Homo sapiens: one gene and its partners. The protein of the gene in region 7 purifies or fractionates together with the protein of the main gene of each other region. This does not show direct contact. Each region holds a gene or a part of one and is shown on either strand. Other genes may lie near its edges.

Region 1 (3,500 bases), on a different chromosome or scaffold from region 7:
TAGACAAATTTACAATGACATGTATTCATCATTATAGCATCAGGCAGATTAGGTTCACTGCCCTAAAAATTTTCTGGGCTCTGCCTATTCATCCCTCTCTCTACCCAACCCCTGATATTTTTATTGTCTCTATAATTTTGCCTTTTCCAGAATGTCATATAACTGAAATCATACGGTATGCAGCTGTTTCAGATTGGCTTCTTTCCCTCATAATACGTGTTTTCTGTATCTTCTCATGGCTTCATAGTTTCTCTTTAGGACTGCATAATATGTCATTCTCTGTATGTATTACAGTTTATCTGTTCACCTACTGAAGGACATCTTGGTTGCTTCCATGTTCTGGCAATTATGAATAAGGCTGACATGAACACCCACATGCAGGTTTTTGTGTGGACAGTTTTTCACTCCTTTGGGTAAATACCAAGGAGCATGATTGCTGGATGGTAAGAGTATGTTTAGTTTTTTTAAGAAACCACCAAATTGTCTCCCAAAGTAGCTGTACCATTTGGCATTCCCACTAGCAATGAATAAGAGTTCCTGTTAATCCACATTCTCACCAGCATTTGGTGTTGTCAGCGTTCTAGATTTTAGTTAGCCATTTTAGTAAGTGTGTAGTGGGATCTCATTGTTTTAATTTGCATTTCCCTGATGACATATGACGTGGAGCATCTTTTTCATATGTTTATTTGCCATCTGTATATCCTCTGTGATGAGGTGTCCATTAAGATCTTTGGCTCATTTTTAAAATCAGGTTGTTCATTTTCTATCTTTTTTTTTTTTTTGAGTACAGAGGACTTTATTGATGGTACACGACAAGATAGAGCTCTTTGTGGGGTCTGCATGGAAACTGTGAAGAGGGGAGATTCCCAGTGTGGTGGGGGACTGAGCATGGCAGGGACTGCCCAGAAGCTGAAGGTCTCTTTCTTCCTCTTGTGCTCTCACTGGGGCTGGTTGTCGAGCAGTCTTACTCCTTGGAGGCCATATGGGCCACCACCCTGTTGCTGTAGCCAAATTCACTGTTGTACGAGGAAATGAGCTTGACAAAGTGGTCACTGAGGGCAATGGCAGCCCCAGCATCGAAAGTGGAAGAGTGAGTGTCACTGTTAAAGTCAGAGGAAACAACCTGGTGTTCAGTGTAGCCCAAGATGCCCTTGAGGGGCCCTCTGACGCCTGCTTCACCACCTTTTTGATGTCATCATATTTGGCAGGTTTCTCCAGATGGCAGGTCAGGTCCACAACCAACACGTTTGCAGAAGGACACGGAAGGCCATGCTAGTGAGCTTCCTGTTCAGCTCGGGGATGGCCTTGCCCACAGCCTTGGCAACACCAGTAGATGCAGGGATGATGTTCTGGAGAGCCCCACAGACATATGCCACAGTTTCCCACAGAGGCCATCGAGTCTTCTGGGCAGGAGTGGCAGCATGGATTGTGGTCACAAGTCCTTCCACAATGCCAAAGTTGTCATGGATGGGCTTGGCCGGGGGATTAAGCAGTTGGTGGTACAGAAGGCATTGCTGATGATCTTGAGGCTGTTTTCAGACTTCTCAGGGATCATGCCCATTATGAATATGGGGGCATCAGCAGAGGGGGTAGAGATGATGACCCTTTTGGCTCCCCCATTAAGTGAGCCCCAGCCTTCTCTATGGTCATGAAGATGCCAGTGGACTCCACGGCATACTCAGCTTCAGCATCACCCCATTTGATTTTGGTAGGATCTTGCTCCTGGAAGATGGTGATGGGATTTCCATTGATGACAAGCTTCCCATTCTCAGCCTTGACGGTGTGGTGGAATTTGCCATGGGTAGAAATACTGGAACATGCAGACCATGTAGTTGAGGTCAATGAAGGGTCATTGATGGTGACAATATCCACTTTACTAGAGTTAAAAGCAGCCCTGGTGACCAGGTGCCCAATATGGCCCAAATCTATTTACTCTGGCCTTCACCTTCACCATGATGTCTTAGAGACATGGCTTTGAGAAGAGGATGGTCAGCACTGAGTGACCTCAGCCAGCACCCATACCCACCTCTCTTTTTGTTGAGTTTTAAGAGTTCTTTGTGTATTTTGGATAACAGTCTTCATCATATATGTCTTTTGAAAACATTTTGGGCTGGGTGCTGTGGCTCACACCTATAATCCCAGCACTTTGGGAGGCCAAGGTGGGCGGATCACCTGAGGTCAGGAGTTCAAGACCAGCCTGGCCAACATGGTGAAACCCCGTCTCTACTAAAAATACAAAAATTAGCCAGGTGTGGTGGTGTGCACCTGTAGTCCCAGGTACTCGGGAGGCTGAGGCAGGAGAATAGCTTGAACCTGGGAGGTGGAGGTTGCAGTGAGCCAAGATCGCGCCACTGCACTCCAGCCTGGGTGACAGAGTGAGACTCTGTCTTAAAAAAAAAAAAAAAAAAAAAGAAATGTGTTATTTAATGTCTAAGTATTCAGTGATTTTCCGGCTATCTTTCTGTTATCAAATTGTAATTTAATTCCTTTTCGTCTGAGATCAGATATTGGATGATTTCCATTTTGGCCAATTCCAAAACAGCTACAGCCTCACTCATTACTTTGTGCTTGTACTCTATAGAGATGGTTATCCTATTTACTATTCTGACTATACTTTGGCGCTTTTTTTTTTTTAACATCAGTTATTGCCAGGTGCCCAAACATGAATTTAATATATTATTTTGACTGAAAATCAACTATGTGTTTTTAATTTCCTCAGATGTCCCCTGTCTACCTAGACTCCATTCCTACCTGTTCCACTGGTACCCAACTCCACTACTCTTCACTGCTCATATGCTTTGGAGGGGTCAGTCTTTATTATCTAAGGCCATGTAACATATCACATTCCCTAGCTATTGTGGTTTATTTAAAGGTGAGCAAGTGACCAGTCCAATAAAACTCTTTGCTTGGAATGCCAGAGAAATACATTCACTTTATTTTTCTATGGTGTATAAATGAGATACCTAAAATTGCTTTTGTCATTTTTATATTTCATAGATAGCAAGTATACAGAGTGAGGCAGAACAGATAAAAGGGTCAAGCCTTGGGCTTTTCCTATTACGGGTATCAATAAAGGATCTTTTTAAGACAGTTTAAATTAGGTTTTCTGTTACTTAGAACAAAATATCTAAATGACACAGAATCTGAAGTGGTCATTACTATTTGATTTCCACTCTTATATGCTTCTGTCATTGCTTCCTAAAAAGGAAAAAAATATGGTTTGTGGCACATGTTTCAGCAAAAGACAAAGGTCAAAGGGTGAAGTGCACTGATATTTAACTCTCTTTGAGAAGGAGCTGAATCCAGGCCTAAGAAATCTCATGTTCAGCACAGGAGATTGAACACTGACTGAGAGCTTGGTAAATTCTAGAACTGACCAAGGAGATAACCGAAAAACAAGTTGAAAGGATATTCTGAATAAACAAGTGAAATAAAAATAAGCCTATTGTGGGAAAACTTTTATAAGCAATCCACAGTTTTTGTTGTGTTTAAAAAAAATC
Region 2 (3,500 bases), on a different chromosome or scaffold from region 7:
TCCCTTATGAGGCTGGAATCCAGCAGCTAATGGGAGCCCCACGACATAACCAGGGTTTCCACTGAGAGGGACTGGCTGGGTATTTTCCTGAAAGACAATGCAGAAATGCCCCCAAATAATTCTCATTTTAATAAGGAAATGGCAGGAAGAAAAATTCTTCTTTCATAATAAAATATGGAATTACCAACCAATAAAAGAATTTCTCCCTCCCTACTCAGAACTATAAATACATCTGCCAGGTGTAGGAGTACATCATACTGTAAAAGAACAAGCTAATGTGGAAGGGAATCTTTTCCCAAAAGGAAAAAAGATACAAGGAGAATGCTTGGTTTCATTACAAATGCACAGGCTACACAAAGCCCTCTGTTCACTACAAAGGCTTGGATGTAATACTTAGAAATTCAGTTTTATCCACTGAGAAGTCATTATTTCTTTTTAACTTGGCAATTAAATACTTATGCCAAATTGATCAACCTTACCTGAAGAAAATGAATTTCAAACTTTTGCTGCAGTGGGACCACTACGCTGCTAACTGTCCCCAGAACGAATGAGAGATCAGCTTTGGTGACTTCACCTGCATCTGTGTATGTGAGGCTGTACTTTACCTAAAAACAAAATGATACTCCAAATATACCTGTTCCATTACATTTCAGAAGCTGTATGAATAACTGAAAACACCCATAGATAGCAAATCTTTCCCTGTTTCTCCATGTGTTGAAGCCTTGCTCTGCTGTCCAGTTGGATTATGAGAGGTGTTCCCTCAGCACCACCCCTAGCAGACAGGGTCATCTGAGCCACTCTGCCCAATTACAGAAGTTCCACATAAGCTGGTCCAAGCAGAATGCAATAAGCCTATCTCTGCAGAGGAAACATGTTAAAACAAAAACAGCAACAACAAAAATATTTTGATGTATTCCGGCAAGTCACTAAGTTTGTGGAGACAAGAGGTGTCCTTTGATGAGACAGCAGAAAGACAAGCAGGCAGCTGAGCCAAGAAAAGCCACACCATGGGCTGGGACAGAGCGTCCTCGGAGGGCGTCCAGTTACCCCGGCGCAACAAGAGGCTTAAGTCTGCCACAGACAAGCTCTCAAAGCCAAACTCGGCACCTACCTCAAGAACAACATTCACGCAAAGGCTAAAGTGTCCAGCGTTGACGAGAGTCGGCTGCAGCACATCAGTGTCCTCCCGTCGGGTGAGCGTTTTATTTAGAGACTGAATGACGATGGACTGAACAGTGATAGGGACCTGCAGAGTGAAGACCTGGAGTGTTGAAGATGCTCTACCCAGGGAGGATGGGCTAAAATAACCAACCAACTGGAAAGAAACCTCCCCTGATATATGGCCAAGTAGGGGGAAGCATGCTACACAACAGTGTATATACTATGATCCACATTTGCAAAAGTAATAAACATATATACATTCACAAAGAAAATACTTGAGAGGATATAACCAAAACTTTAAAAGTAGTTACCTCTGAAAACATAAAGTTTACACAAAAACTTGTACACAAATGTTCACAGCTGCACTATCAAAATAGCTAAAACCAAAAACCACCTAAATGTCCATCAACTGATGAATGGATAAATACAAAGTCTAGCCTTACAAAGGCATATGACTCATCCCTAAAAATAGTACTAATACATGCCACAGTACAGATGAATCTTAAAAACATGCTAAGTCATGGAAGCCAGACACAAAAGGCCACAGTTCTAATTCCATTTATACGGAATGTCCAAATAGGCAAACCCATAGAGACGAAAAGTAGATCGGTGGTTGCCAGGGGATGGGGGACAAAGCTGGGGAAGAATGAGGAGTGACTGCTAACACAAGGCTCCTTTTTGGGGTGATGGAAATGTTCCGGAATTAGTGGTGATGGTTGCACAACCTGTGACTATACTAAAAACCACAGAATTGTATACTTTAAAATGGTGAGTTTTATGGTATATGAATTATATCTCAAATACACACAAAACTCCATCACACTGTCAAGCACACATATATATCCTCACCTCCAAAACACAACTCCTACACACTCCATACCCACACATGCACATTCACATGCAGTCCCAGGATATATATCCTTAAGCCCCCACACACCCCCGAATATTCATTTGACCCAATTTATACACAACTTCTATACAAGCGCAAGCACGCTCACACACACATACACACACACACACACACACACAGTGGTTTCTCTGGGTGGTAGGATTATGAGCAACAAAAAACAGACACAGACAAACATTTTCAGCAGCACCAGGGAAGCCCTGCTTATCCCAGTGCTATTAAAGGACGTTTTGCATTCATGGCCACCACCAGCAGAGTAACAAGGCATCAAGCCATCCTCTAAAGGTAGCTGAGCCTCCTCGTACTATAGGATGAATCTGTCATTTGCTCTAAACTTCAATTCTTAGAAACCACTGTTGAGGAAGGAGCCTCATGTATCTATTAACAGTTGTTTATACCACTTTGAACTTGCACTCAATCATGCACCATGCTGTTTATAATTCAAAATGACCAAGTATTTAAGCAGTTATTTTAGAGATAAATAAGCAGTCCTTATGTGTCTGCTCCCATGACCAAGAAGACCTGCGAGTCAAAACCTCTCATAGAAGAAAGTGACATGACTCAGTAACAAAGACGTGAGCTGTCATGTGACGAGAATGGCAGAAGGGCAATGCTAGTCACTGTGAGGCCCTCTGCATAACATGCCGCACCAAGGGGTTTCAGCATGGAGGGGGTCCTAGGCTGTTATTCAATTAGCTCTTGTTTAACACAAGGGCAACCCCGGGTTCCTTACTCTGAGCATAGTGGCCCCTGATTCAGCAATGACACCGGGTTCCAAGAAAGAGCATAGCCTGCCATACCAGCCTCTGCTGGAGCCACTTCCATGGTGTGTGCGTGGAATTGGCAAAAACCGAAGGATTCAGTGTCAATGAGCTTTGGAGAGTCCTGGTGTCAATGGCAGGAGCTGCCCTCGTCTCGACAGCTCACTCAACTGTCCCGAGAAGGAAACAGTAGCGCTGTGCTGATTTCCTTGATTCCTCTTCTACCACATACCATTCCCAAACCACACACACACTGGTAAAGAACTCCAGCATACTCAATGAAACTACAGGGCTACCCTGGAATCTTTCACTGATGGCTCCACAGATACTGACAATGATTCCAGGCAATCATAACAGTCTTCACTTAGTGGGGAGATTAGACCCAATTTCTATACTCCTGATCCTCTAACCTTAAAATCTGCTTTTTAAGAAAATTTTAAACAAATTCCTACTATTAGTTTACATGCTTGTCCTTTAGAGCACAACCTTTGGTGTCACACAGACCTAAGTTGGAAGTCCCAGTCTGCCACGTCCTGTGTGGCCACAGGATGCAAAGAAGGAAGGTGTGTGAAGCCTGTCACATGGGCTCACAGAGTAGAGCTGGCCCAGTATGGTGGTAAAGTATAAGGTCCCTGGGGCCAGACCACCTAGATCCCTGTCCCAGCTCTGCC
Region 3 (3,500 bases), on a different chromosome or scaffold from region 7:
GAGTAGCCAGAGGAGAAAGAAGTAGGGAGAGTGTTTTGTTTTGTTCTCTTTTGTCATTTAAACATAAGAGACAGGCTTGAGAATATTTATAAACTGAGGGAAAAGCAAAGAGGGAAAGAAGGAGACAGGGAAGCAATGGTGATGACTTTATCTGAAAATGAAGGCCTCTGTCCTCGCACTGGCTGGGACACACAGGGAGCGTTTCTTTTAGTCAGCAGCATTTCCTGCCAGCATGGCAGCCTCCGGGCAAACTCAGAGGTGGAGGAAAAGTGCAGTCCTAGCAGGTTGTTCTCGGAGCCCTCTCATAATGGGCTGCTCCTCTTCAGCAACCTTCCCGCAGGATGCTCTCATCACTTGTCAGAGGGCCATTTGGCACCTAAACCCCTGAGCTGTCCAAATTGCCAGGAGCTCCACAGGTCTCTTCAGTTTCCTCCCACAGCAGTGGAGGTGCAAGGGGAAGCCAGATCCCCAGGGGCCTCTCCCCTTGTAAGCCCCTTCCAGCAGCCCAGCACAAGAGTGGGAATAGGGAACAACCTCTCTTTCCCACTTCCTCCCTGCTAGAAACATAGCACAGAAATCTTCAAGCCACTCCAGAATCCTGCCAAAGATAGGACTGTGTTCTCTCCTGATAACTTGCATCTGATTAGCAAATGAAGTCTATAGAAGTTATGGCTAAGACTAATTGAAAGCATGCTGTGTGCCAGGCACGATTCTCAGTGCTTTACATTCTCTCATTCCTCACAACCCTATTTTTATCATCCCTATGTTACCAATGAGGAAACTGAGTGCAGACACATCTAAGTCATTTGCTCAAGGTCGCAGCGTCAGTGACCGCCATTGCAGGACATGAAACAGGCCAGGCTGTCAGACTCCAGAGCCGGCACTGCTGCAACTTATTTTCAAACACCATCACAAAATGTACTATACAATAAACCATAAAAGTCAGGGAAGAATTCATAATATCACTAGTTAAAAATCAAATGCATAAATAAAGGATTGCAGTCACTTTACCACAGTTTCAAGAGAGATCTTGAGATCTCTCCCCCCAGCCCCATGACAGCACATTTAAAAGAGTATTTATCTTGTAAATATAATTAATGCTACTGAATTGCACACTTTAAGAACGGTTAAAATGGTACAATTTTTGTTGTGTATATTTTACCACAATAAAAATAATACAAAAGAGGCCGGGCACAGTGACTCACGCTGTAATCCCAGCAACTTGGGAGGCTGAGGCAGGCGGGTTACTTCAGACCAGGAGTTTGTGACCAGCCTGGCCAACATGGTGAAACCCTGTTTCTATCAAAAAATACAAAAATTAGCCAGGCCTGTAATACTAGCTACTCGGGAGGCTGAGGCAGGAGAACTGCTTGGACCTAGGAGGCAGAGGCTGCAGTGAACTGAGATGGCGCCACTGCAATCTAGCCCAGGCAACAGAGCAAGACTCTTACAAAAAAAAAAAAAAATATATATATATATATATATATATATATATATATATAAAGAGGCCAGGCACAGTGGCTCACGCCTGTAATCCCAACACATTGGGAAGCCAAGGCCGGAGCATCGCTGAGCGGAGGAGTTCAAGAGCAGCTTGGGCAACATAGTGAGACCCCCATTTCTTAAAAATAAAAAAAGAAAAAAAAAATTAGGCAGGCATGATGGTTTGCACCTATAGACCCAGCTACTCAGGAGGCTGATGTGGGAAGATCACTTGAGCCCAAGAGTTCGAGGCTGCAGTGAGGTATGATTGCACCACTGCACTCTAGCCTGGGTGACAGAGTGAGACCCTTTATCAAAAAAAAAAAAATACAAAATACAAAAGAACATTTCTATATACATTTTTCTATTTATTAAAAAAGAAAGTGAAATGAAATGAAAATCAAAGCCCTGTCTTGAGACAAAGCATTTCAGACATCATTTAGTATTTTAAAAACAACAACAAACAAACTAATCAAGATCAAAGAACCCACTGCAGCAGCAAGGCAGCCTGGTATAAAGGTCTGGGAGATCAGAACACACTCAGTGCTCCGGCTCCCTTACCCTAGCGCCAGCGAAGGTACCACTGTCCTCAAACTGCCTCTAGGATATCTATAAAAACCAATTCTAACCCCCAAACCATAGAAATCCACAGAAACTCTGAGAGCACAGAGCAAAGTGGGAATGCCCAGGGCTATTTACAATCTCATTTTACAAGAGGCTGTTGCTCCTTAAAGACCTGGCCATATGTGCTATTACCTGGACCTGAGTAAAACGCACCTGAATGGATAAACAATGCCTCACAGGAGAGAAATAAAGCATTCAAAGGAACCCTCTGTCAAACCATGTCCAGGATTCTAGAACTCAAATTCTTCGTGTTGACTAAGATGGCAATTTGTTACTTTTAGGTCATTCTAAATGACCACCCGGGACAAAAGTGAAGCAATGCTGAGAAATCTAGTATAAAACTACATAAAGAAAGGTGCATCCTGCAAAAACCCTAAGAAAATCAAACAAACTCCTGCTGAGGCAGGAGTCTAGGGTTTCTCAGAAGAAATTCAGCAAAGATAACAACATTGCTGGAATCACCTAATTCAAATACAGAAATTAGTACTTCAATGACTACAATTCTTTGAATGAGAAGTTCATTGAGGCTGCTCCATTCCATTACGGATGGCCAAGTAAACACTTATATGATTCACTTTCATTCCCTGTTTAGCAAATCTAGGTAATATTATTAACACCCCCAACAAATAAACTAAGTTTTCAACTGGCATAGCTTTAAGTGCCCCTTATACTTCTAAAGGTAGGGGTACCTACTTTTGGGGGCTCAACTCACCCCCAAATTCCTTCTTTAGAGAGGTAAGGAACAAAGATTAACAAGGCTGAAGAGTATAAACAGGTCGGAAAGCCTCCAAAAAGACAGAAATATTTGAAATCTACTAAGACAAGGATATCAATGTCTGGAAGAAGGAATTTAATAATTTCCAACATTTTTAACCCCTCTGTAAATATAAAGCTCCCTCCCATCGATTTTACATCATTTCCAGGTCATGAATAAACTTATGAACCAGAATACTCCTAAGAGCATTACAATTTCTCCACTGACGTTTTAAAACACAAGAACAACAATACAATAAAGAGAAAACTTTATTTTTAGGTTTGCAAAATCCTGTGTTTATTTTTCTAAAACTGAAGTCAAACAACTGAACCTGCTTTGTTTGGATTTTAGTAAACTTATTCTCTCTTAATCCTGGGGGACCAAACTCTGCCCAGAAGGAAATGAAGAAAAAGTCCTCCGTGCCCGTGCCATGCTGGAAAGTTAAAACACGGTGCCTCCTTTGGTTTTCTGTTCAGGCACATCTGAGCCTCCTGCTGCTGGTCACGGTTCACACTGCTGGAGTCATATCATATGACACCTGCCGTATGGCGGGTAGAAGCAAAGGCTGTCAACTGGCATTCATGTTGAAACTGGTTCAGTGTTTGAACTGCTAACTTCTGCGTGTAATGTTTAAGCAAAA
Region 4 (3,500 bases), on a different chromosome or scaffold from region 7:
ACAGCTACTGTCTGCACCCACTGCAATTCTTCCCCTCCCTTTTCATCCCTTATTCTTTCAACAAATATGAATTGAGCACCTACAAAGTGCTAGACACTGGTAAAACTATCGGGGAATAAAAAAGACCATCTCTTTCTTCATGGGGTTTAGGGTTTCATGGTGGGAAAAGTTAATTAAAACAACACCTAACTACACAGTGCCATTCCAGCAGAGGTAGGTACGGTCAATGAGCAATAGGTCATCTGGGCAACCAGAGAACAAGCAAGAGGCCCTGTCAGGAAGCAACAACTATCTGAGCACCCAGCACAGAGTCTCTTCCTGCAAGCATGCCAAACAGGGATTAAGCACATGTTAGGACTCTCCCAGCTGCAACAGAAGCCGCGCCACCAATCAGTCAGGGGCCAAGGGCAGGAGGAGGGTGTAATTACCCACCAAGCACCAACACTCTAGGCAGGCAAAAGCATGCTGTCTTCCAGCTGTTTGTGTATCATTAGAAAAGAAATTAAGATGTCATTAGGAAGAAATTAAATAATGTGCATGTTGTCGTGACAACAAAGATGCAGGCTGCCAGCTCCTACTCTGAGCAGAGATTGGCCACACGCAGCCCCTTTCTTGAGATCAACTCTACAGAGACAAAAGAAGAGACTCTGGCTTACCAGTGTTCTTCCCCTTGTAGAAAATCTTCATGTCCATGAGCCCCGTGAGCTGGTTTGCCAGAATCTCCATCTGGGACCCACTGTATTTGGAAGCTCGGAATATGCTGAGCTGTGACCAGTCATCCCAGTAGATTTCATTCTAAAAAGAAAACCTTTGCCCATTAGTCCAGCTCTTTCGTTCTTTATTCTGGTTCTCTCTAAGGGTAAGAGTTCCCCCAGGCAGGAGACAACTAACATTTATTGGCTGAATGACTAGCCTGATCAAGATTCTACTTAAATGCAAAGGACAGCAATTTTATCCAAACCTCACCATATAACCCCACAGAAGAAACTGCCCAAAAGAAACTATCTGATAAGCATTCAAGTTTATGACACAAACCCAACCCCCTCAGTTTGAAATCTGTTTCCCAGAGTTGGGAAGAGCCATGTTGCTCTCCAGAGTCGAAAAAGAACTGCAAGGCACTATAGGTGGTGCAGAGCTCACCGGAAGTCATCAGAGAATAAAGTGAGCAAAGCGCACAAAAAATGAAGACACCACCCTGAAATGAGGCTACTGACACTGAGGGGCAAACTGGGAATGTTCATGGGAAGAGCCTTCACTTTTAACCTTTTGAAATGTGAACAGCAGGGGAGCCTGGACCCTTGGCGCCTCTGCCTGGCATCCCTCCATAGGCTGAAAATAAGTTATCTCAAATTTGGAAAAAAGGCAACCTTTAAGAAGTTAAACAGCTTCTCTGCAAAGCCCAGGGATGCAGGCTCCTGATCTCATATGCTCCTCACCCGCTCTAGCAGACTGTCCGGCAGCAACAAATGGACTCACCTTAAAGACAGCAATGGCATAGGGGTGCGGGAGGTTGTCCAGAATGACAGAGCGCTGCTGGCCACTGAACGTGATCCGCTCTATGCACTCCAGGTAGGCATCCGTCCAGTAAATCCACTGGTCGTCCACAGAGATGCCATTGGGCCACTTCACATCCTCAGACACCAGGTGATAGGCAGCAGAACCATCCATATTGCTCCGATAAATCCCAGGCTTCAGGTCTCCCCAGTCTGTCCAGAACATCACCCTAGCGAAAATGGGGACAGAACACATACCTCATCAATACTAGAGAAATGGGAGCTCAAATACTACTCCAGAAAAGGTCAGAAACTCCTTTCGAATGATCCGGCTGGTTATTTCAGCATTATTATAACAATATGTAATGACAACACCTGAAACTACTTAAATTCCTTCACCTGGAAATTCCTTTACTAGAATTTATCTATAGATAAAATCAAATTATGCAAAGATAATATACAAAGAAATGTATATGTATGTATATTAAACTAAATGTTAATCAGCAGAGGAAGTGACACATTATGGTACATATAATAGAATACTGTGAAACCTAAAAATCTATATATGCTCACACAGAACTATTTTCAATACATATTAAGTTTGTTTAAAAAGGTACAGAATAGTAACTACACTACAATCCTATTTGGCGTGCATGTGTGTGTATATGTGTGTGTTTTAAAGATAATACTTGTACATAAGTAAAAGCAATCATGAAAGATACACAAGACATTATTAACAATGATTACCACTAGGAAGTGTGAGGGTAAAGGGTTAAGAATGAAAAGGAAGAATGCAAATTTTTTTCATAAAGTGCTGTTCTCTCTAAATATTGTCAACCAAGTACATACATTACTCTTAGAATTTTCCTTGAAAAAAATTGTGCCAATTCTCTATCATAAATGCTACGAGAGAGGAAAAGCCAGAATGTCAAATCCAGAATTTCCCTCTTAATTATGTTTCCTTCAGTTAATGAGTTAATAAAAAGCACCTTTGCCTTCCCCAAGTGCACACTGATTGTACGTAAGAAAACCTACACATGCTGGGAAGGCAGGGGAAAGATGGAATGAATTAAATGTTTGTACCATGCATGAAACTCAAGAGAAAGTTCTCACAATATCCAAGCAGGCCTGTCTATGTCTACAGAAGCTCTCTTTTAACATCAACTTTTCTAGAGAAACAACCCACAGATGCAAGACATCTGGATGCCTAAAGAGACTCTGACACTGGCTAACAAAAAGCGAACGGAGTTACCTGACCACGATGACTAAGCTGTGGTCTCAAACTTCTCAGTTAATAGACCATTTCAACCACCATCATGAGAAACAGAGTTTTTGTCCCGCAGTCTGTGTTTCCATGAGAATCTATTAGTGTAGCATTGGACGCAAGACTGATTTCCTTTTGGGGCAACACTTACCCCTCTTGGGGCACGAGGACCAGAGCCCTGGGACGATCAAGCACAGAGGAATTGACGATTGTGAGTCGGAAGTCGCCATCTGGATTAGCTACCTGACAAAAACAGGGGGAAAAGAGGCTGAGATGGATCGGAGCTCCTTAAAGACCCCCATTGCCAAAGATGGCTACTCAGCTTCTGCTACAGACATGCCCCCTCCATGCCTGCCTATTTCCCTGACCTGACCCATCTGCGAAACCTGCCCCAACTTCTAGTCACAATGCGCTGTTCCTTCCTCTGACTCATGGGACAATTTTCAAGTGGTCTGAAAGAGGAGCTAGAACCATGTAAGCCCCAGTTTCCAGGGCATGATGATCTGGACAAAGCAGTATCAATAAGTAAATTACTCAAATAAGTAAATAAGCAAATGAGCATTTACTTATTTCACCATCCCGTGTCACTCCACGTTCCAAGGCAATCGATGACTCCACACTCCCATAAAACAAATTCTCAATGTCACAGCCTTGCAATGAAGAGTCCACAGGTGGGACTCATATTCTTGCTCCTTCCCGTCAGCCAGGCTGGTCATCTCTTGCTTCTCCAAGCCTGATGCGGA
Region 5 (4,238 bases), on a different chromosome or scaffold from region 7:
TGAGTAGCTGGGACTACAGGCACGCACCACCACGCCCAACTAATTTTTATATTTTTAGTAGACACGGGGTTTCACCATGTTGGCCAGGATGGTCTCTATCTCTTGACCTTGTGATCCACCCTCCTTGGCCTTCCAAAGTACTGGAATTACAGGCATGAGCCACAGCACCCGGCCTTTCTTTCTTTTTTTTATTTTTTTATGTTTGTTTGTTTGTTTGTTTATTTATTTATTTTGAGACAGAGTTTCACTCTTGTCACCTAGGCTGGAGTGCCGTAGCACAATCTTGGCTCACTGCAACTTCCACCTCCTGGGTTCAAGCAATTCTCCTGCCTCAGCCTCTCAAGTAGCTGGGATTACAGGCGTCCACCACCATGCCCAGCTAATTTTTGCATTTTTAGTAGAGACAGGGTTTTGCCATGTTAGCCAGGCTGGTCTCAAACTCCTGACCTCAGGTGATGCACCTGCCTCGGCCTCCCAAAGTGCTAGGATCACAGGCGTGAGCCACTGTGCCCGGCCAGTAATGTGCATTTTTGATTGTCAGGTATACATACAACTCACAATTACACATAGTTGTCCTCTGGTAACTATTTGAAACATACTGCACTTCCAGTCACATACACAGTACTTATTAATATAGATATGTGCCAAGCTCTTAATATGGAAACAGTTACTGGGAAGACTCCTTTTGATCACCCTGAAAGGCACATATTAAAATGCAATGAAAATGTATTCACATATATTAAAATCCCCAAGGGTATGTTAAAAACCCCAGCCATATCTTCTAAATGACAGTGCTGCTCTGGCCATGGTCTTAATAACAAGGCAGTTCATGGTAAACTGCCAGCACTGTTCAGGGAGTGGAAGAATAAATAAATTCAAGTTCTAAGATACCCCAAATTAAATGTGTCTTAAAGTTCTTATATCTCTAAATGATGAGTCAGCCAGGACTCTCAACGCTAGACCATACGATTCCAGAGTGAGAGCTAAAACCCTATCTAAACCTAACACTTTCTCTTGAGGGCCCCTTTCCGTATTATCTTCCAGCTTCAGAGCAGCAGGGCTCCTGCCTCCCACTTCTCTGTGTGTGAGTTATGAATGTCTTACCCCTGAGGCATGGAGGAATGGTGACTTCTTTTCAAGCAGTAATGTTCCTTGCCCCCGGTTTAAAACGCCTGCATTTAAAAGCCTTAGTTGTTTCCTGGCAGCATTACTCACAGTAGCCAAAAGGCAGAAACAACCCAAGTGTCATTGATGGATGATGAATGTAGGTGTTTCAAAACCTCACTTTTAATGCATCTCATATTAGTAAAAGTAATTTCACAGCAGCAAAGAGAACACGATAAATTTTGCACGGTGCAATTGGTCATCTTAAAATCAAGATTGGAGATTGTGGGTTCGGGCATCTGTGTTCTTGGGGTTGGCCAATTAAGTTACGTACTTGGGGGAAATTTTTAAGCAGGGGGGCAAGGGAAAGAAAAACTCATTTATATTCCAGACAGTGTATTTTAATTAATTATGTTACTGTACACAAAAAACTTTTATTTTCAATTAAATTTCTTAAATTTTCAATTGCATACTAATAAAACAGTAATTGATTTTTTTTAAGCGTTACAATAAACATGAGAGGGGAGGGGAAAGACACCATAGTGACAGGGTACAGAAAGTTTCTCAAAAAACTTCAAAAAGCTGTTTTGAGACAAATTACTGTTTTTAGATATGAAAAGTTCATTGTTAAGATAAAAGTGGGCCAGGTACAGTGGCTCACGCCTATAATCCCAGCACTTCGGGAGGCCCAGGCGGGCACATCACCTGAGGTCAGGAGTTCGAGACCAGCCTGACCAACATGGTGAAACCCCATCTCTACTAAAAATACAAAATTAGCCAGACGTGGTGGCGCATGCCTGTAATCCCAGCTACTGGGGAGGCTGAGGCAGGAGAATCACTTGAACCCAGGAGGTGGAGGTTGCAGTGAGCCAAGATTGCGCCATTGCACTCCAGCGTGGGCAACAAGAGTGACACTCCATCTCAAAAAAATAAAAGATGATAAAAGTGCCAGGCACGGTGGCCTACACCTGTCATCTCACCACTTTGGAAGCCTGAGGCAGAAGGATCACTTGAGCCCATGAGTTCAAGACCAGCCTGAGCAACAAAGTGAGATCCCTGTCTCTCAAAAAAAAATTTAAAAATTAGCCAGGCATAGTGGTGCATGCCTGTAATCCCAGCTACTCAGGAGGCTGAGGCAGGAGAATAGCTTGAGCCCAGGAGGTTGAGGCTATAGTGAGCCATGATTCTGCCACTCTACTCCAGCCTGGGCAACAGAGTGGGCAAAGAAAAAGATGATAAACGTATTATGTAATATAATGGTCGGCATGTATTGTACATATGTATCTATGGATAAAATTAACATTAATTAAATTAACACTCTAAGCACTTAATGTGTGTTGTAGCTCTTTAGTTAAAGATTGTTTCCTTCTTTTCCCATGTGAAATTTTTTTTTAAGAATTAAAGCCCAAAGGCATTGTCTGATATTTAGCAAGTACATTAAATCTGCTAGACTTATTGTCTTCCCTGCTAACTTAGGGTATTTTTTTGGTTGTCCGCCTCTATGGACTGTGGTAAAGCTAGGATTAGTAACCAGACATTACTTACCTTGGCTCCGATCTGGTTGCCACACTGGCCAATCTGAATATGGACAATTTCACGCATCCTTGCTCTGAGCCCAAGTCTGAGATCTTCACGGAATCCTCAGACTCTCAGAATCCAGAGCTTCGGTTCACTGGTGTGAGCCCAACACAACTGTGGTCACTGCAGTGGTGGGACTGGCCAACCAAGCTACCCTCACAATGTGACCAAGGGTGTGTCCACCCCAGAGGCCCAGCTCCCCGCCCTCAGCCAGTCCTGGCCCTTCTCTGCTTTCTGCCTGTCATGCTTTTGGAAGGGAGTGTTTTTCCTCCCTCAACACAGAATACTGCCCCATCATTTCCTAGAGAGTGAGTGCAAGATTAAAGGCCACCTCGGGGCACAGGGCCTGGAGGCTGGCACTGTTTGCAGGCTTCTAGGTGACCATGCTGGCCCTAGTGACCGTGGTATGATGACTGTGGCTCCTAGCTCACCCAGGTAACCAGACCACCTCCAAGGGCTTTCCCTGTCCATCTTCCCGGCCCCTTTTCCAGACTTTGGTCCCCAGAAGCCCCGTGCCCCGCCACAGCAGGAGGCTCCACAACTGGGCCTCGCAGGTCCCAGGTCCCGGGATGGCCTGCATCAGGCACTGTCTGCCCGCCCTCCCCCACATGCCCTCTCTCGCCCTGTATGCAAGTTACTCTGCAGTGTCCTGCAGGTCTCTTGGACCCCTGCCCTATCCATGCCAGGGCTGGGCTGTGCCCCAGCACCCTTCCCAGCCCCTGCTCTGTCGTCCCATCTCAGCTCATGGTGTCTGGGGTCTTAATGTTTGCCATAGGGTCCCTTTACCAGACCCTGAATTCTCCAAGAGCAAAACGGACTCCCAATTGTATTCCCTTAGAGCCGGGTGTGGTGGCTCACTCCTGTAATCCCAGCACTTTGAGAGGCCAAGGTGGGCAGATCACCAGAAGTCAGGAGTTCAAGACTAGCCTGGCCAACATGGCGAAACCCCATCTCTTACTAAAAATACAAATATTAGTCAGGTGTGGTGGCACACACATGTAGTCTCAGCTACTCGGGAGACTGCGGCAGGAGAATCGCTTGAACCTGAGAGGCGGAGGTTGTAGTGAGCCGAGATCATGCCACTGCACTCCAGCCTGGGCGACAAAACAAGACTCTGTCAGAAAAAAAAAAAAAAGCATTCCCTCATGCGGTGTACAGGAGTGGCAGCAGGCTGGGTACTCAGCAGCTTGAAAGCAGCTGTTCTGTCTCCTGGTCCTCAGTACCTCCCCTGCCACCAAGTTTCTATCATCGTCGAAAGCCAGCCCTAGGCTTTATTACCTCCAACCAGGCAAGGGCATCCAGGCCAAACACCAGCTCCATATCCTTGCCCAGGAGGGTGGCAGTTCCCCACCGCCTGGAGGACAGAAGGTGGAAGCTTCCAAGGAAGATGGGGAAGGGACTCCCTGAGAAGGCGTGAGAGCCCTGGCTCGGAAGGGGAGAGCCAGTGGACGCTGCCTTGTGCCTGTTGAGCTGTCGAGGTGCAGGTGGGCAGGTACAGGGCAAGGCCTCACTCCTGAAGCCCCGAGGATGTGGACAACCACCATCCGGTGAGCAAC
Region 6 (3,500 bases), on a different chromosome or scaffold from region 7:
AAAGTATGACTGCACATCTTTCATTTACTTAAGCTGTCTTTTGTTCGGTGAACTCTCTAGCATATCCTTGGTCATTTTTCTATAGGATTGTTCATCTGTTTTTTGTTTGTTTGTTTGTTTTTTGTGATGGAATCTCACTTACTCTGTCACCCAGGCTGGAGTGCAGTGGTGCAATCTTGGCTCGCTGCAATTTCCACCTCCCAGGTTCAAGCAATTCTCATGCCTCAGCCTCCCAAATAGCTGGGATTACAGGCATGCACCACCATACCCAACTGTTTTTTGTATTTTTAGTAGAGACAGGGTTTCGCCATGTTGGCCAGGCTGGTCTCGAACTCCTGACCTCAAGTGATCTGACTTCCTCGGCCTCCCAAAGTGCTGGGATTACAAGCGTGAGCCACCACACTCAGCTAGGAGTGTTCATCTTTTTATGAGAAATTTTTGTATTTAATATGTGGCTCTTTTTCCATCATATATGATAAAACACGTTGCCCAATATTTATTTTTTTTCTTTTTTATCTCCTATGGTTTATGACATGCATATAAGTCTCTTTCTCCTTTGGAATTATAGCATTTTCCTATATTTTCTTTTAGTATTCTTACATTTTCAATTTTTAAATTGAAATCTTTGATCATCTAAAACTTATTTTGATGTAAATGAAAAAGTTTTAACTTTTATTCTCCATGTCTATCCAATTAGTCCAATACCACTTATAGAATAATTTACCTTTTGATCACAGGTTAACAATGCTATATTTTATTTTCGAATCTATCGATTTTCTATTTATGTGTGACTATTAAGTAATTGTAAATATCAAAACTTTATAATATGTTTTAATATTTTCTTTTAAGTTTTCTTTCTGATTATTTTTGACTAGGTACCAAAAACTCCTCAAAATTGGGATCATGTTAAATTAGTAGACCAATTTAGGTAGATCGACCTTTTTTATACAATAGTCCATCTTTACATCAAAAAAGAATATATTCTTTGTTTATTCAAGCCAGTCATCTTCATTTCTTCATGAGCACTTTAAAGAGTTATATAAATTTGACATTTTGAGTTTATTTCTACATATTATATACATATATGTTTTATTTCCTGTTAATGGATTTTTCTTAATCACTTTTAAACAAGTTGTTTATTAATTATAGTAAAGCAATTTTATTTTTATATTAATTTTGTAACCTACCTTGAATAGTTTAACATTTTTTCAAAGTCTTAAAGTTTGTAAAATTGATTTCCTTAATTTTTTCTGTAGATGATATCTTTCTTCTTACCTTCCAAATTTTATGTTTTTCATTTCTTTCCCTTTTCTTATTACTTTGGCTACTATCTCCAGAATATTTATCCTGGAAACTTTGTCTTGTTCTTATTTTTAATAGCAATGCTTCTTTGGCATGACTTTGATTTTGAAGACACATGGCTAGACAGACTGTTAGAGAAGACAAACACAAATATACTGATATAAATGTATCATGTTTAGTAAATTTCCATCTGTGTAAACTTTATTGAGCTATTAATCTGAAATAAAATGTTAAATTATTGTAGTAGTTATGAAGAATATCCTCTAACTTTTTTCTCTTAACTTTTTAACATGACAATTATATTAATCCATTTTCTAATACTAAACTTACCTGTAAAATTTGAGCCCAACTTGATCATTGTGAATTATTCTTTTGGGTTCTATTTACTAATATGCTATTCATATCAATAAGTACATCAATATTAGTGAAATTAATCTGTAGCTTTTCTTTTTTATTATGCTGTGTCAAGTTTTGATATCAGTATTATTTTTTCCAGTTTTATAAAAAATAACAGAATTTTTTCTTCTTTCTCTATACTGTACTTTGGAACAGTTATTTTTTTTTTTTTTATTTTTTTTTTGTTTGAGACGGAGTTTCGCTCTGTCGCCCAGGCTGGAGTGCAGTGGCGCGATCTCAACTCACTGCAAGCTCCGCCTCCCGGGTTCACGCCATTCTCCTGCCTCAGCCTCCTGTGTAGCTGGGACTACAGGCACGCGCCACCATGCCTGGCTAATTTTTGTATTTTTAGTAGAGACGGGGTTTCACCGTGTTAGCCAGGATGGTCTCGATCTCCTGACCTCGTGATCCGCCCGTCTCGGCCTCCCAAAGTGCTGGGATTACAGGCGTGAGCCACCGCGCCCGGCCGGAACAGTTATAATAGCACGGTATTTTTATTTTTTTACATTTTCATTAGCATTCAATTGCAAAACCATGGGGAGAGTTCAGTACTCTTGGAGAGGTTACTTTTTAACAACTTTTTCAACATGTTTGTGTCTAATGTTTTATTCATAATTCCTGTATAATAAAAAATCAGTTTTAGTAATTTGTACTTTGTTTAAAAATAACTCATTTCATATCATTAAAATAAGAATACTGCCCAAAACACAGCCTGGGTGACAGAACAAGACTCTGTTTCAAAGAGAAAAAAAAGAACGTTACCCAAAACAATATCCAGGTTCAATGTTATTGCTATCAAACTACCTACATCATTTTTCACAGAAATAGAAAAAAAAAAAATTCTAAACAAAACCAAAAAAGAGCCTCAATAGCCAAAGCAATTCTAAGCAAAAAGAACAAAATTGAAGGCATCAAATTATCCAACTTCAAACTCTACTACAAGGCTACAGTAACCAAAAAAGCATGGTACTGGTACAAAAACAAACACACAGAAAACGGAACAGGTTAGAAAACACAGAAATAAAGTCACACACCTACAACCACCTGATCTTTAACAATGTCAACAAAAACAAGCAATGGGGAAAGGACTACCTCTTCAATAAATGGTGTTGGAATAGCTGGCTAGCTGTATGCAGAAGAATGAAATGGGACTCCTACCTTTCACCATATATGAAAATTAACTCAAAATAGATTAAAGGCTTAAATGTAAGATCTAACATTATAAAAAAATCCTAGAAGAAAACCTAGCAAATATCGGCTGGGCACAGTGGCTCATGCCTGTAATCCCAGCACTTTGGGAGGCCAAAGCGGGTGGATCATGAGGTCAGGAGATCAAGACCATCCTGGCTAACACAGTGAAACCTCATCTCTACTAAAAATATAAAAAATTATCTGGGCATGGTGGGGCATATGCCTGTAATCCCAACTACTAGAGAGGCTGGGGCAGGAGAATCGCCTGAACCCAGGAGGCAGAGGTTGCAGTGAGCCGAGATAGCGCCACTGCACTCCAGCCTTGGTGACAGAGCAAGACTCTGTCTCAAAAAAAAAAAAAAAAAAAAAAAAAAGAAAGGAAGAAAAAAGGAAGAAAACCTAGCAAATACCATTCCAGACACAGGCTTTGGCAGTGAATCTATGACTAAGTCCTCAAATCAACTGCAACAGAAACAAAAATTGACAAGTGGGATCTAATTAAACTAAAGAGCTTCTGAATAGCAAAAGAAACTATCAAGAGAGTAAATAGACAATCTACAGAATAGGAGAAAGTATTTGCAAAGTATGGACCCAACAAAGGTCTGATATCC
Region 7 (3,500 bases):
TTGAAACTAAGTGTTTTGGATGTCTAATTATTTTTTTATTTTGGAATATTTGCAGTACATGTACTGGTTTAGCATCCCAAATCTGAAAAATTTAAAATCCACAATGCGCCAGTGAGCACTTCTTTTTAGCATCACATCAGTGGTCAGAAGTGTTGAGTTTTGAGCATTTCAGATTGTGGATTTCTGGATTTCCGATGCTCAATTTGTAACAGTGTAATTTTTCCGTAAAAATTTGTCAGGAGTTTAGACCTCATGTTATATTCTGACTCTAGTAACAAAAAAAATTTGGAGGAAACATTAAAATGTTTTCATAAGTGGAAATTTTTACTGATGGTCCAAACATCTAAGATCAATTGCTGGTAGTAGTATTTCTCTTGAGACCAAAATAAGGTTTAGGTGTGCCGTGAATTCCAGCAGGATCACGTTATGCTCAAAGAAAGATGCCAAAGGTGATTTGAAATTAGCAGCTCCTTAAGTAGAGAGAGTCCCATTGAAAGGACCGAACTGGTCAGTGCATCAATTACATAAAGGGAGAAAGGATGTCAAATTAAAAGAAGTGATGTGTGTTATGTTAGTAAATATAGAAAGAACTCCCTGCTTCTAAATTCTGTGCAGAGTTAGGAAAAATGGGGAGGACCTCAAAACAGGTATGTGAAATGCTTTCTTCATTTTCTCTTAAGCTCAGGAAACACCACTAGAGTTTAAGTTTGTGTGAATTAGGAAGAGTCTAAGTGAGATGGCAATGGCTCTTGTGTCTCCCCACACGAAGATCTCCAACTTATGAAAATGACATCATCATGAGGAAACAGTTATAGGTGGCACAGGCAGTAAAACCATCAGATAACACCCACCTGGTCAACTCCAACTAGTCCCCAAAACCACCGGTATTCCCATTACGTGTACATTACAGTCTTTGTAGTTGTCCCACAGCTACAAAATTTAAAAATTGCTATTGTCAAAACAAAATATTAAATATGAAGTTGAATATGTTGTTCCACTTTTTTTCCCCACTCTTTTTGAACTTTCCTGTTTCAGTTTTGGAAGTTTCTGTTGACACATCCTCAAGCTAGGTATTCTTTCCACAGCTGTGTGCAGTCTACCAGTAAGCATCAAAAGCATTCTTCATTTCTCTAACAGGGTTTTTTTTTTCTGAGACAGAGTCTCGCTCTGTCACCCCGGCTGCAGTGCAGTGGCATGATCTCAGCTCACTGCAAGCTCTGCCTCCTGGGTTCACACCATTCTCCTGCCTTGGCCTCCCAAGTAGCTGGGACTACAGGGGCCCGCCACCATGCCTGGCTAATTTTTTGCATTTTTAGTAGAGACGGGGTTTCACCATGTTAGCCAGGATGGTCTCTATCTCTTGACCTTGTGCCCGCCTCGGCCTCCCAAAGTGCTGGGATTATAGGCGTGAGCCACTGTGCGCAGCCGTCTCTGAGGGAGTTTAATGAGTTGTTGCCTTTTGAGTTTGTTCAGCTTTTTACTTAGTGTTAGAACCGAGTGACAAATTTCAAGCTTGTTATACGCCTGTCAGGAAGCTAGAACTCTCTAGAAAGTGACCGGAGAATGTGAGCTCCATAGCAGGTTGAGGATGGCGTCATGAGTGAGGATGGGGTCAAGAGTCCACTCAGAGATGGAGTGCCCAGCCATCTCTGAGGGATTTTAACAAGTTGTTGACTTTTGAGTTTGTTCAGCTTTTTACTTAGCGTTAGAAACCAGTGACAAATTTCAAGCTTGTTATATGCCTGACAGGAAGCCAGAAGTCTATAGGAAGTGACTGGAGAATGTGAGCTCCTTAGCAGGTTGAGGCTGGAGTCACAGGTGAAATGAGCCCATGGGGTTTGGGGACAGCAGGCCTGTCCAGCCTCTGACACCCTGGTGAGTCAGTGCAGAGATTACAACAGTGACAGCAAACTAGCATGGCTGACTCCATCTGGCATCTAGTCTCAGGCTGGCTGTCCTCACTCATTCCTGGGCATAGGCCAGGTTAACCTTGGGAGGAATTTAGTTTATGGTTTAAACTTGAAGCAAGAATGATAATAGTTCCTCCATAAAACTAACACCCTTACTTTGTCCAGGGACTGCCTTTGTAAAACTAGTGAAAGACCATGAGATTAAGATTATAGGAGGGAACTGAATTTTGCTAAAATGTAGGCACAGTTTCTATAATCCCTGACTGCTCCAGTGTCATTGGGACAGGGTTTACAAAATTTGTAACTAATTGCTCCTATAGATAACATCACTATTGTAGAACGTGAGATTGGTCTTTTGAGATGTTTCTCATTCTTTTGCATTCTGGCAACCGGCTGACCTCATCCATACCTATGACTAATGGCTCAGCCAGTCATGTGGTCCCTACCTAGAGGCAGATTCAAGCACAAACAGATCATGTCCCCCTGCCCCCATGATTCCATCACCAAACAATCAGCAGTACTAATTTTTTAGTCCTGTGGCCCTGAAACTATCCTTGAAAATCTCTAAGCCCTGATCCACTGGGGAGGCTGATTTGAGTAATAATAAACCTCTGTCCTCCTGTTTGGCAGACTTGGAGTCATTAAAATCTTTCTTTACTGCAAACCGCCATTTCAATTATTTTATTTTATTTATTTATTTGTTTTTTTTTTTTTTTGTGCAGGAGGCCAGAGGAACTTGTCTGGCAATTATGAGAGTGGATGGAGGAACTGCCTATCCCTGTCCCATGGTCTTGTCCACAGGTCAGCCTCACAAAGGGAAAGAGCCCTGGATGGGAATACAGTGGAAGGTCATTCTCTTAGTGACCTGGGGACATTGGCTCGAGAGGAAGCCTGGCAGGAGTGGCAACTCCAGATGATTTCTGTGCCTTTCCTCTTTCCTGGGAGGTGGGCCAGGCCACAGTGTTAGTGGGAAGGGAACTGAACAGCCAGAGTGGTTAGAGGGAGTGTCTAGGGAAGGCCTAGAGGTGGAGGAAGAAGCTGTGCAGGACAGGGCTTGCCAGTCAGAATGAAGTGGGAGGAAGATGAGGGACACAGAGAAGCAGAGAGAGGCAGATACACCATGGCAGTGAGCAGTGAGGGAGACACTGTCTTCAGAAACTCCAGGGACCAGGTGCCCCCAGTTCCATAGTCCAGGACCAAGGAGCCCTCGAGAACCCTCCGGTGGCTTAAGAGCTTCAGAATTACATGAGGTGGGGTGGCTTTAGGGGCAAGAGGTAGTGGGGGGATGAAACATGGATGTCAGCCTCTGAAGGACAAGGGACAGGTGTGGCTAGAACCTCCTAGGATTCTGCATCCAAGATCCAATCTCTAAAGAGGTTTTGGATCATTCATTTCTTCATTCCATTCCTTCATTTGTCATGTGAGAGCTCCTGAGTGTGTGTCTCTCTCGCTGGGCCTGTGGTGGTGTAGAGTGTGAGTGGGGAAAGAAAACAAGGTCCTCTCCTTGATCCTCTCATGACAGTGACAAGGACACTTTGGGAAACACAGGATTTCAGGTTCAGTGATGGTGGTTAAGATCTGAGGAGGAGG

The links.
Region 1: the proteins of PSG1 (region 7) and ANKRD46 purify together in Homo sapiens (affinity purification with mass spectrometry; 3 studies listed by BioGRID and IntAct, with this or other methods). This does not show direct contact.
Region 2: the proteins of PSG1 (region 7) and TCTN1 purify together in Homo sapiens (affinity purification with mass spectrometry; one large-scale study listed by BioGRID and IntAct). This does not show direct contact.
Region 3: the proteins of PSG1 (region 7) and STK39 purify together in Homo sapiens (affinity purification with mass spectrometry, with the first as the bait; one large-scale study listed by BioGRID). This does not show direct contact.
Region 4: the proteins of PSG1 (region 7) and SORL1 purify together in Homo sapiens (affinity purification with mass spectrometry; 2 studies listed by BioGRID and IntAct, with this or other methods). This does not show direct contact.
Region 5: the proteins of PSG1 (region 7) and TUBB1 purify together in Homo sapiens (affinity purification with mass spectrometry; 2 studies listed by BioGRID and IntAct, with this or other methods). This does not show direct contact.
Region 6: the proteins of PSG1 (region 7) and COL14A1 purify together in Homo sapiens (affinity purification with mass spectrometry; 2 studies listed by BioGRID and IntAct, with this or other methods). This does not show direct contact.

The regions. Positions count from the first base shown.
Region 1 is NC_000008.11:100,549,760-100,553,259, forward strand, and holds part of ANKRD46 (ankyrin repeat domain-containing protein 46), read right to left. Parts: intron 1,975-3,500; exon of another isoform or gene 781-1,974; intron 1-780.
Region 2 is NC_000012.12:110,638,129-110,641,628, reverse strand, and holds part of TCTN1 (tectonic-1 isoform 1 precursor), read right to left. Parts: intron 1,247-3,500; coding exon 1,112-1,246; intron 606-1,111; coding exon 480-605; intron 88-479; coding exon 2-87; intron 1-1. UniProt on the Homo sapiens protein: Component of the tectonic-like complex, a complex localized at the transition zone of primary cilia and acting as a barrier that prevents diffusion of transmembrane proteins between the cilia and plasma membranes.
Region 3 is NC_000002.12:168,241,096-168,244,595, forward strand, and holds part of STK39 (STE20/SPS1-related proline-alanine-rich protein kinase), read right to left. Parts: intron 1-3,500. UniProt on the Homo sapiens protein: Effector serine/threonine-protein kinase component of the WNK-SPAK/OSR1 kinase cascade, which is involved in various processes, such as ion transport, response to hypertonic stress and blood pressure.
Region 4 is NC_000011.10:121,556,814-121,560,313, reverse strand, and holds part of SORL1 (sortilin-related receptor preproprotein), read right to left. Parts: intron 3,001-3,500; coding exon 2,909-3,000; intron 1,724-2,908; coding exon 1,477-1,723; intron 796-1,476; coding exon 657-795; intron 1-656. UniProt on the Homo sapiens protein: Sorting receptor that directs several proteins to their correct location within the cell. Along with AP-1 complex, involved Golgi apparatus - endosome sorting.
Region 5 is NC_000020.11:59,017,991-59,022,228, reverse strand, and holds the start of TUBB1 (tubulin beta-1 chain), read right to left. Parts: upstream 2,801-4,238; 5' UTR 2,707-2,800; coding exon 2,650-2,706; intron 1-2,649. UniProt on the Homo sapiens protein: Tubulin is the major constituent of microtubules, a cylinder consisting of laterally associated linear protofilaments composed of alpha- and beta-tubulin heterodimers.
Region 6 is NC_000008.11:120,131,602-120,135,101, reverse strand, and holds part of COL14A1 (collagen alpha-1(XIV) chain isoform 1 precursor), read right to left. Parts: intron 1-3,500. UniProt on the Homo sapiens protein: Plays an adhesive role by integrating collagen bundles. It is probably associated with the surface of interstitial collagen fibrils via COL1.
Region 7 is NC_000019.10:42,873,214-42,876,713, forward strand, and holds part of PSG1 (pregnancy-specific beta-1-glycoprotein 1 isoform 2 precursor), read right to left. Parts: intron 1-3,500.